Regions from separate parts of the Homo sapiens genome. Here region 2 is linked to region 1. Evidence: fine-mapped expression QTL. Tissue or cell type: whole blood. Region 1 holds a variant in brackets; the other region holds the start of a gene. Each region is shown on its reference strand, or each on the opposite one. Region 1 has its middle 190 kb from the start of LINC00358. Region 2 holds the start of PPP1R13B (protein phosphatase 1 regulatory subunit 13B).

Evidence for each region. PIP is the estimated chance that this variant, and not a neighbour inherited with it, causes the effect.
Region 2: it holds the start of PPP1R13B, and the variant in region 1 is the best candidate, but not a certain one, in a credible set for the expression of PPP1R13B in whole blood (TOPMed, PIP 0.73).

The regions. Positions count from the first base shown.
Region 1 is chr13:61,839,164-61,843,558 of GRCh38, reverse strand. No RefSeq gene overlaps it. Among named protein-coding and RNA genes, the nearest start is that of LINC00358, 190 kb to the left of the region's middle. The variant G/C (reference allele first, on the strand shown) is at 2,130.
Region 2 is chr14:103,845,570-103,849,886 of GRCh38, reverse strand. It overlaps PPP1R13B (protein phosphatase 1 regulatory subunit 13B), which reads left to right and starts at 2,312. Exons shown (of 17, transcript NM_015316.3): 1 at 2,312-2,588. The coding sequence starts at 2,580. PPP1R13B-DT (PPP1R13B divergent transcript) reads right to left here and starts at 2,166. Exons shown (of 3, transcript NR_038436.1): 1 at 2,144-2,166. RefSeq lists silencers at 1,753-1,822, 1,843-1,972, 1,993-2,432, 2,603-2,802.

The DNA of each region.
Region 1 (4,395 bases):
CTGATAGAAACAACATGAACTCTTTTTTTAGTATAGGACATTCTCTCTCTATGTGTCTCACTCCTTCCTCTATTTATCTATTTCCTCAATATTATTAATATAGACTAAGAAAAGAAAAAGATATATATTCAATTTTACTTTGAGAGAGCTTGATAAAAATAAATAAAAACATAAAAATTTATATTTTATTAAAATAGATTGAAGGAAATTACATTTTCTAAAAATACCCATTAAAATTTTTGTTCTTTGGTTTGACAGAGAGTATATGTTTGTAAAAATAGTGGGGAGAAAGCTCCACAAATCTGTGTTTTTGAAAGCACAGAACACAATAGAACTTTAAGGCAGTTCTACATGCTTGGGAAATTTATAATTTATTTGTTCTACATTTCCAAAAAGGAAAAAAGCAATCTAAATTTAAGATAAAAATTGTATATCTTTGAATATATTATTTCTTTCTTCCTACTGCATTTTTATTGGTTTTTGTGAATTTATTTTGTCTTTGAATCCAATTAGTGTGACTCTATTAGTCAGAAACTTCTTTGTAAGTTGTAAGTTTTCTATATGATTTGTTACCATATCTGGTCATAAATTCATCAAGAAAAGATAGTGTCATGCTAATAGATCCTAAGGTTACGAATTGCATTATCCTTCACAGTTTTCAGTGCAGAGTTCAGTTTCTCATGAGGTATATCTATACTACAGAGAATTCTAATAATAGATTTTTAAAAATGAAGTCCATTAAATAAATCAAAGAACAAATTGATAGAGAATTGTTCTCTGTCTCAACGACTTTATGAAGTCAGTGTTTGCCCCAAATTTTTATCCAAATTTTCATAAAATAATAAAAATAACTGATTTTTTAGAAATTTAAGGCAGAACCCATAGTAGTTTATTAAAAACTAGAACTTTATTGGGTTACTGCATATCTTTAAAAATGTGAACTTTACATTATCAAATATTTTTAAAGAAAAACATCAAATATATCTTTTATAGAAAAAGTGATGCTTTAAGAAGATATTCTACATTTTCCCTGGGTTTCTGTGTCCTGATACATTATTATGTAATTAAATGAATATAATATATATCTAATATATATATATCTTAAGTTTGATAAGCAAGTGAATTTTTGAGAGATCGTAGAATTGTATCAATATGTTATACCAATCCTATCATAATTACAACTTCGTTGGCAGTGCAGTACCATAAAAAACATCGATTTTTTCTAATAAAATTTTTCACATTGCTCTTAATATGATTCAGATATTGTTATAAATATATTGTCTACATCTATCCATTTAATCATCACAAGAGCAGTATGTTAGCTATGATAAATCTTCATTCTGCGGATGAAGTAACTGAGAAACAATATCCCAAGGGCACACAGTATTATCAGAACCAGAATTAGGATCCTGGCCATTCCCCTCAAGAGTCTGTGCTCTCAAACACTATGCTAGGCTGCTACTTTGGGACTGTCACATTTTAACTCTGACATTTAAGGCGAGTTACTTTAAGTTTCTTGTGTCATTTCTCTTTCTGGATCTGTAAAATAGGGCAGTAATGGCTTCCGTTTGGTGCTATTCAGAAGAATGTCATATGTGTGTGTATCAAGATTAAGATGAGTATAATAAAGTTAAAAAGTGCCTCATACACTGTGACTATTATATTTTTGTCTTTGATTCCACCGCTAGTAAAATAAGTTTTCTCAAAAAAAAAAAAGAAAAACAATAAAGAGTTGTTGACCTGTCAATTCCCATGATTCTGTTAGTACACATTATTATTATGTTTCTTTCTTTAAAATGTCAAGATACACTTATGATGTGAATGTTTAAACTTTGAAGTCTTTCACTTGTCTGACTAATTAAAAACATAAAATGTGGCATTTCTAACACATTTGGAGGATGGAAACAAAATAATGCACATTTATGTAGGTCTCTATCTGAAGACTTTTGAGGCTACTTTTAAAAAACAAGTTAAAAATGATTTTCATAGTTAAAGACTTCTGAAAAAAGAACTACTGTTTAGAAAACTCATTTTCTGTAAGCATTGTTTTTTCTACAAATATATTAAGAAAAGCAAATGTTAAGTATAATTTGCAGAATTACAGATAAATACACATTTCAAAATAAAAG[G/C]CTTATTGCATTGGATATAGATCTGCAAACATACAATTTGACCAGGCATTTTTCAGTCAATCCTGATTAAATAACAACATTTTTAGTACCATCTTTCTTTACTTTGAAAATTGATACTATGAATTCGGATCTTTATATGAAGAAGACGCCCCATATTATTTGCTCTTTTAAATATGATGCTTGGTAAAATGTGAAACATGTAAACTGCCTTATTGGATATTTGCATGGAAAACTAGGAAACCACAGTTTGCATGGTTATTTTGAACTGAAGTAAAGAAGTTTAAGATTGTTTCTTGATTTTTTTTTTTTAATTAACACACATGCCCTTATTTCTCTTCTTAACAGTACTAAATTTTCAAACTTTAAGGTTCGAGTAGAATTGACTCTCCTATTCCAAGGCCAGGGTAGATTCTCAGTCGGTTGCCCATAATGATTTGTTGAGTTTGACAAATGACATAAGTTATTCCAACTTGAATGTATATCATATTATTTACTAGAAATATGATTAAATACATTAGCTTTCTCCAACTGACTTGGAAACATAAAATATGAGGCTGAGATCTATTTCATTCTTAAAACTTCCAAGAAGCCCCTCCTGGAGTTGAAAGTGAGGTCAATATTACATCACAGGAAGATATTAGAGAGAGAGAGGGAAAGAGAGAGAGAGAACAAATTTACAACAAAATGTTGGTAGTCCTTTTGCATTCCAGACGAAGCTTCAACTGATACCTACAGTATCCCTGGCCTCTCAAATTTATGATTTAGTATAGTGCATTTGAAACAGTCTGTGTTAGGTTTATAACCAATAACATACATTAAATTAACTGATAAGCATTCCTTGTTTTTTTTTTTTCTCCCTGGACAAAGAACTGTCTTATTAGAAATGACCTTCAACACAGTCCTTGATAGAGCCATCGATTATTAGAGGATTACAGTAATGGGCTATAAGTTTAATTACTTGACAAATATTTTATTTTCCCCAAATTTAATTTGAGCCCTTGTCTATTATCATTAGAACCGTCAATAGTAAATGAAAGCAGTGAGATGCCTCATTTACGGTTTTGATGATCATGAAAGGACTGATAGGGCAGAACAAAAATGATACAGCTACTGCTCTCATAATATGCTTTACATACATAGATACGTTGTTAAAAATAGTGTGCAGGCTTTTTACTATTAGTAGCACTGTGCCTCAACTATGAAACAGGGAGAACATTTTTCAAACTGGCTGAGGAATGTTAGGACAATATTAAATATTATATAATTATTGCAAAATGGGTTTTACCTTGAATTCCAAGCTCTCCTCGATATAAGTGCAGACTTGTCATGTAAGTTATTCTTCAATTAAGTCCTATTTCCCTTCACTTACCATACCCTAGTAGCACTTCTTAAGAAATCCCCAGAAATTGGCAAAATTAAAAGACAGTTTTTTGCTCATAACAAAAGGTGAGACAAGACAATTGGGTGTCAGAGAAAATAAAATTATTCACTTGGATTTCAGGACACCTGCCTGCTGCACAGAATCTGATCAAGTTGGCTTGATGATTTTTATCCAGACCTTTGGGCCTTAGCCCTATAATTTTCTTCTCTGGAGCACTAGAATAGTCTAAGGTACTTTCAGGCTCAAAATTCTGTGATCTGAGAGTGCATCAATAGGTGCTTTCTTCAGCTCAGTTTTTAGATTTGAACTTGATTTTCTGCCTGTTCAAATATTTTTCATGCTAGTTTAAAGGATTCACAGTTCTCAGAGAAAGTGAGATCCTCAATAGATTCACGGAAATCACAGGGCTGTTCATTTACAGCACTAATGGGTGACATTCACTGGCAGAAAAACCTAATCCCAGAAATAAAGAACATTTTTGGCACTTTCTCAGCTTATTTGCATCAAATTGCTCAGCCATAATCTGCTTTTCCAAGCATCATTTTCTGTTGGACTGAATGCCAGATTCAGGATATATAAAGGAATTACCTATACTAAACACCAAGAAGATTAAGAACAAAAACAAAAGCAAAAAAAAAAAAAAAGAGAAAGAAGACAAATAATTTGTTTACTTTGTATATTCTCATTACATAATTTTAATTCATCTATGTATGCACCTGAATGTAAAAGCATAACCATGTTTTTATTTAAAATAAGATGAAAATGCTAAGTCCTGGGCCAGACACTTCATTAAACACAATATATACTCTATCTTAATGCTCACATGGATTCAGGATACAAGTTTGTTAATATTTTCATTTTATCAGTTAAGAATTATTGAGTGTC
Region 2 (4,317 bases), not on the chromosome of region 1:
CCCCCCAAAGTGGTAGAATTACAGGCGTGAGCCACTGCACATTAACAACATTCACGGCGATTCCTGATGGGCTGCTCGTGAACTTTGGTCTGTGTAATGGAGAGACACAGAAGGGCTTTACAGGGTTGGGCCGTGTGTGCTCCAGGAAGATGGAGGGCAGGGGCGTGTTGGGAATGGTGGGGGCGTGGAGGCTAGAGCAGTGGGCTTATAATGAATGAGCTTGGTCCAGGTGGGAGGTGATGGGCCGATGCCTGGAGGTGGCAGGCTGGGTGGAGAGGAGGATGGGGACCAGCGGGAAGGACTTGAGGGGGAGCTGACCAGCCTGCCTCAAATGGACCCTTACCTGGAGGATATAGGATGCTTTGGTGTGAGGCACGGTAGCTGCCACTGTCTGTGCCCACAGGTCCTGCAGGCAAGAGGGGAGCCCTTGTGCCAATGCTTCCCTTCCTGGAAGAGCAGGCTCATTTGGATCACCTTACCCCGGGGGGCACCTCTCTGAAGAGCCTTGGCAAAACCTGTCCTTTGTCAGGCTTCGTGGGCCAGAAGTACCCCTTCGTGACTCAGGGACATCAGCTGTCAAAGCTGGGGAAACCAAGGCCCAGAGAAGGAGTGCAAGTTGCCTAAGGCCCCACAGGAGGTCAGAAGCAGAGCAGCTAGAATTAGAACTTAAGTATGTCTCTGACTTTCAGCCTAGGATCACTCATTATCTAGAGCCTCCTCTTCTCTCCAAACTCTGCTCCCAGAAGAGGGGTGTCATTAGCCATTCATGCCCAGGTGTGGATAGGTTTAAAAATCCCAGGGACGTCTGTACACTAAGCCTCCTTGCTAATCACGGCCCAACTACAGAATGCTATTTATGGAACAGCTACCACGTGCCACAAATTGTGCTGGGCGCTTTCCATCCCTCGCATCCGAAAAAGCCTCTTGACACGAGGCAGGCACTATTATCCCTACACTCTCCCATCACAGAGACAAGCACACTACGATGCAGAGAAGATGCGGCTTGTTTAGGATCCCAGGCGAGGGTGTGGCGGAGGCGGTGCTGAACCAAGTCTGTCTAACTGGAAAGTCCACACTCGCAAACACGAGCCCCCGTGGCCTCTGAGGGACAGGGGTGGCTCCCCAGGAATGGGCTGGTGGGAGCTCCCTGGCCTCCTCCCTTGCTCTGCCCCCACTCTGCAGCAGCCAGAAGCCTCTCCGAGAACCAGACAGGCTCCAGACTGACCCTGACCTCGCGGCGGCCTTCTCCACTGGGCCGGCGCTTCCCAGGGCGGCTTACGCCTTCTGTGTCTGGGGCCATCCGCAGACCTTGCCTTCTGATGCCCGTGGGAGTTCGGTGCTGCCGCGGGGAGCACCTCAGTCCCCCTGTCTGCTCTCCGCCGCGGTCCGGGCGAATGGCACCATGTGGGGGGCCCCGAGCGGGTGCCTACCCCCCTGGCAGCCTTTACTGAGGGTCTGCTCAGGGCCCTGCCCAGGGCTCTGTCACTCCGGCGCTCAGGCCCGAGGGGGCGGCGCCTCTGGAGACGGGACTGCAGGGAGAGACCCAGGCCCTGGAGACGAGGACCGGACCCTCCCCGGGGACGCTGGAGCTGGACCTCGAGGGATGCTGGCGCAGGTGGGCACAGGTGGCACAGGTGGGCGCGGGGTTCTAGGCGGGAGATCGCTCGGGCGAAGGCCAAGGCTCGGGAGCTGGTGCGGGGGGCGCGGCCCCGAGAGCCGCGGAAGACGCCGGTGGGGGAGAAGCAGGTGCCAGCCAAGGGCGTCGGGCCGGGGCTGGTTCCGAGCGCGCGGCCTCGGGTCACATGCTCGCTCCGGGGGCCCCCCGCGCCCCTCCCACTGGCCTCTGGGCCGCAGCCCCACGGCGCGCCGGCAGCCGGGGGTCAGGCCGCGGTCAGAGTGCGGGCGCGCGCCGTCGCCGCAGGGACGCTCCCGGCCCACAGTCGGCCCCCGGGAGCCCGGGTTCGAGTCCCGGCCCTGCCGTGATCCGCTGCGGGACCCGGGCCGGCCCTTCCCTGTCGGGCCTCAGTCCTCCCACCGTCCGCGGTCTTCCCTAGTCGGGGCTCACGCAAGGGCGGGGGAGGCCACCGGTGCCCACTGCGCGTCCGCCCCTCCCCCGCCGCCGGGAGCGCGGACGCGCACGCACCTGGCCGCCGCTGAGAGCGAGGGTAGCGGGCGGAGCCGGGAAGCCCCGCCCCTCTCCCCGCCCCCGCTCCCACCGGGCCAATCAGAGGGGGCTACGGGACCCGTGCGGGGCGTCGCGCTGGGGGCGGGGCCTGCGGGGGCTGAAGAGCGAGCCGGGCGGGCGGGCCGCAGGCTGTCGGGCTGGGGCTGAGGCTGAGGCTGAGGTTGAGGCGGCGGCGGCGGCGGCCGGGTGCCCGGGACAGCGACGCAGCGCGCCGGCGGCCGCGACAGGGCCAGCGAGAGCCCCGCAGCCCGCCGCAGCTGCCGCCTCGCCGCGGCCGGGCCGGAGAGCACGGCGGCGGGAGCGCGGCCTTAGGAGGCGGCCGGAGCGGTGGGCACAGCTCGGCGCGGAGCGTCCTGTCAGGCGGCGGCCGAGGGCGTCGCGGACTCTCCCCGCGATGATGCCGGTGGGTGAGGGCGGGCGGGAGGTGGCGGCGGCTTCCTCCGCGGGCCGCTGGCCAAACCTCCTTCCTCCCGCGGCTCCCAGCCCCCGCGGGCCGGTGCGAGGCCGGGCGGGCGGGGAAGGAAGTGGCTGGGCGGGCGCGCCCGGCCGCGGCGCCCCCCAGGCGGGCAGGTGGGGGCGGCGCCGGGCTGTCAGCGCGGGGCCGGGGCCGCCTGCGGGCCCTTCCTGCTCGGCCTCCGCGGCCGCGGGGAGAAGCAGATGCATTTGGGGCCGGTCATCTCCTCGGTCCTCTCAGGTGCGCGGTCGGACGCTGGGGCACAGGTCTGGTGGGTGGCGCAGCTGTGACCCGCCTGAAACGAACGTTCTGGGGTCGCCCTGGGAGTCGGCGGGGTGGGCACCCGCGCCCGGAGTTCCCACACTCTGCAGGCGCATTCCCGTAGCCTTCGCGGTTGTACTGAGGAAAGGTGCCGAGTGCACGGATTTGGAGAGCCATCTTAGGAATTCCCTTTTCCCGTATCTGCAATGTTGGTTCGTTTTGCTTTAACTGGTTTGTTCTCCGTGTTCTGAAGGTTGAACGAGGTTCGTTTGTAGTGGTGGTGTCTTTGTCCTGCCCTTAAGGATGCTTTCGCCTAGAAAGACATTGGCCATTAGATTTGCCATCGTCCTACCGACCCTTCCCTTTACCTATAATCTGAATAGGAGGGGATGCTGAATTCTGATTTTTAAAAATTGGCTTTTTGGGAGGTAAGCATCATGACTTATGAAAAAATGTGGGACTGGTTGTACCCAGTTGGAGAGGTATTGGTTTTCTGAGCGCCTATATCGTAAGTAAAATTCTCAAACACGTTTATAGTAAAGTAACACAGTCATTTTTTTAACCTACAATACTACGTTGAAAATCACATTTCACAGGAAAGTGCAGTTTCCCTGCATTCTCTACTTGAATATTGCCATTCTGCTATGCTGCACCCAAGGACATTTAGATTAGATCCCCCTTCTTCCTCTTTGATTTCCTTTCTCTTGATAATCTCTTCTCCCCGTTTTTAACGGATTCCAGCATGTTTTGTAGCCGGCTTTCAGCGTTTTCCAAGTCTTAAGGTTTGATCTACTTGATCCTTAGGTCTTTCTTTAGCATCAGACTTGTTGGGTTTCTAAACATTTGGTTTTAAATGAATAATTGTCTTGTAATGGAAAGAGAATTGGATGAGCATCAGAAGATCTGGGGTGAAACGCTGGTTCTTCCACTTTTTAGCTATGTGACCTTGAAGAAGTCAAGGTCTTTGAGCCTGGAATTACCTCTAAAGTAGGGATAAAAATGTACCAATATCTGAGCGCTGTCCTGAGGATCAAATAGGATGATGTATCCAAAAGTGATGGTTGAACAGAATGTCATACAAATATTTATTATTCTTAATATGGCTTTGAATTTTCAATTTCTAACTTTATAAGATAAGGCATTTGGAAACTTCCCTCCCTAATTCTCACTAGCTAGATTTTGATGAAAGGCATTATGGTGTTTCAGAATTTTGAAAGTAGTTTTAGTTAAATCCTGTAATAGTTGATTGATGCATTCATACTGTGGTGGCATTGAAGGATATCTAGAAAAATTTTGGCTGGCTTCGTCGTTGTATAATGTTTAATTATAAATATCCTGCTAAGAAACTTGGCTTACATTTTCCATATGATTCATTCAGACATCTTACCTCTATTCCACGGGAGTAGAGTTTTGAGTT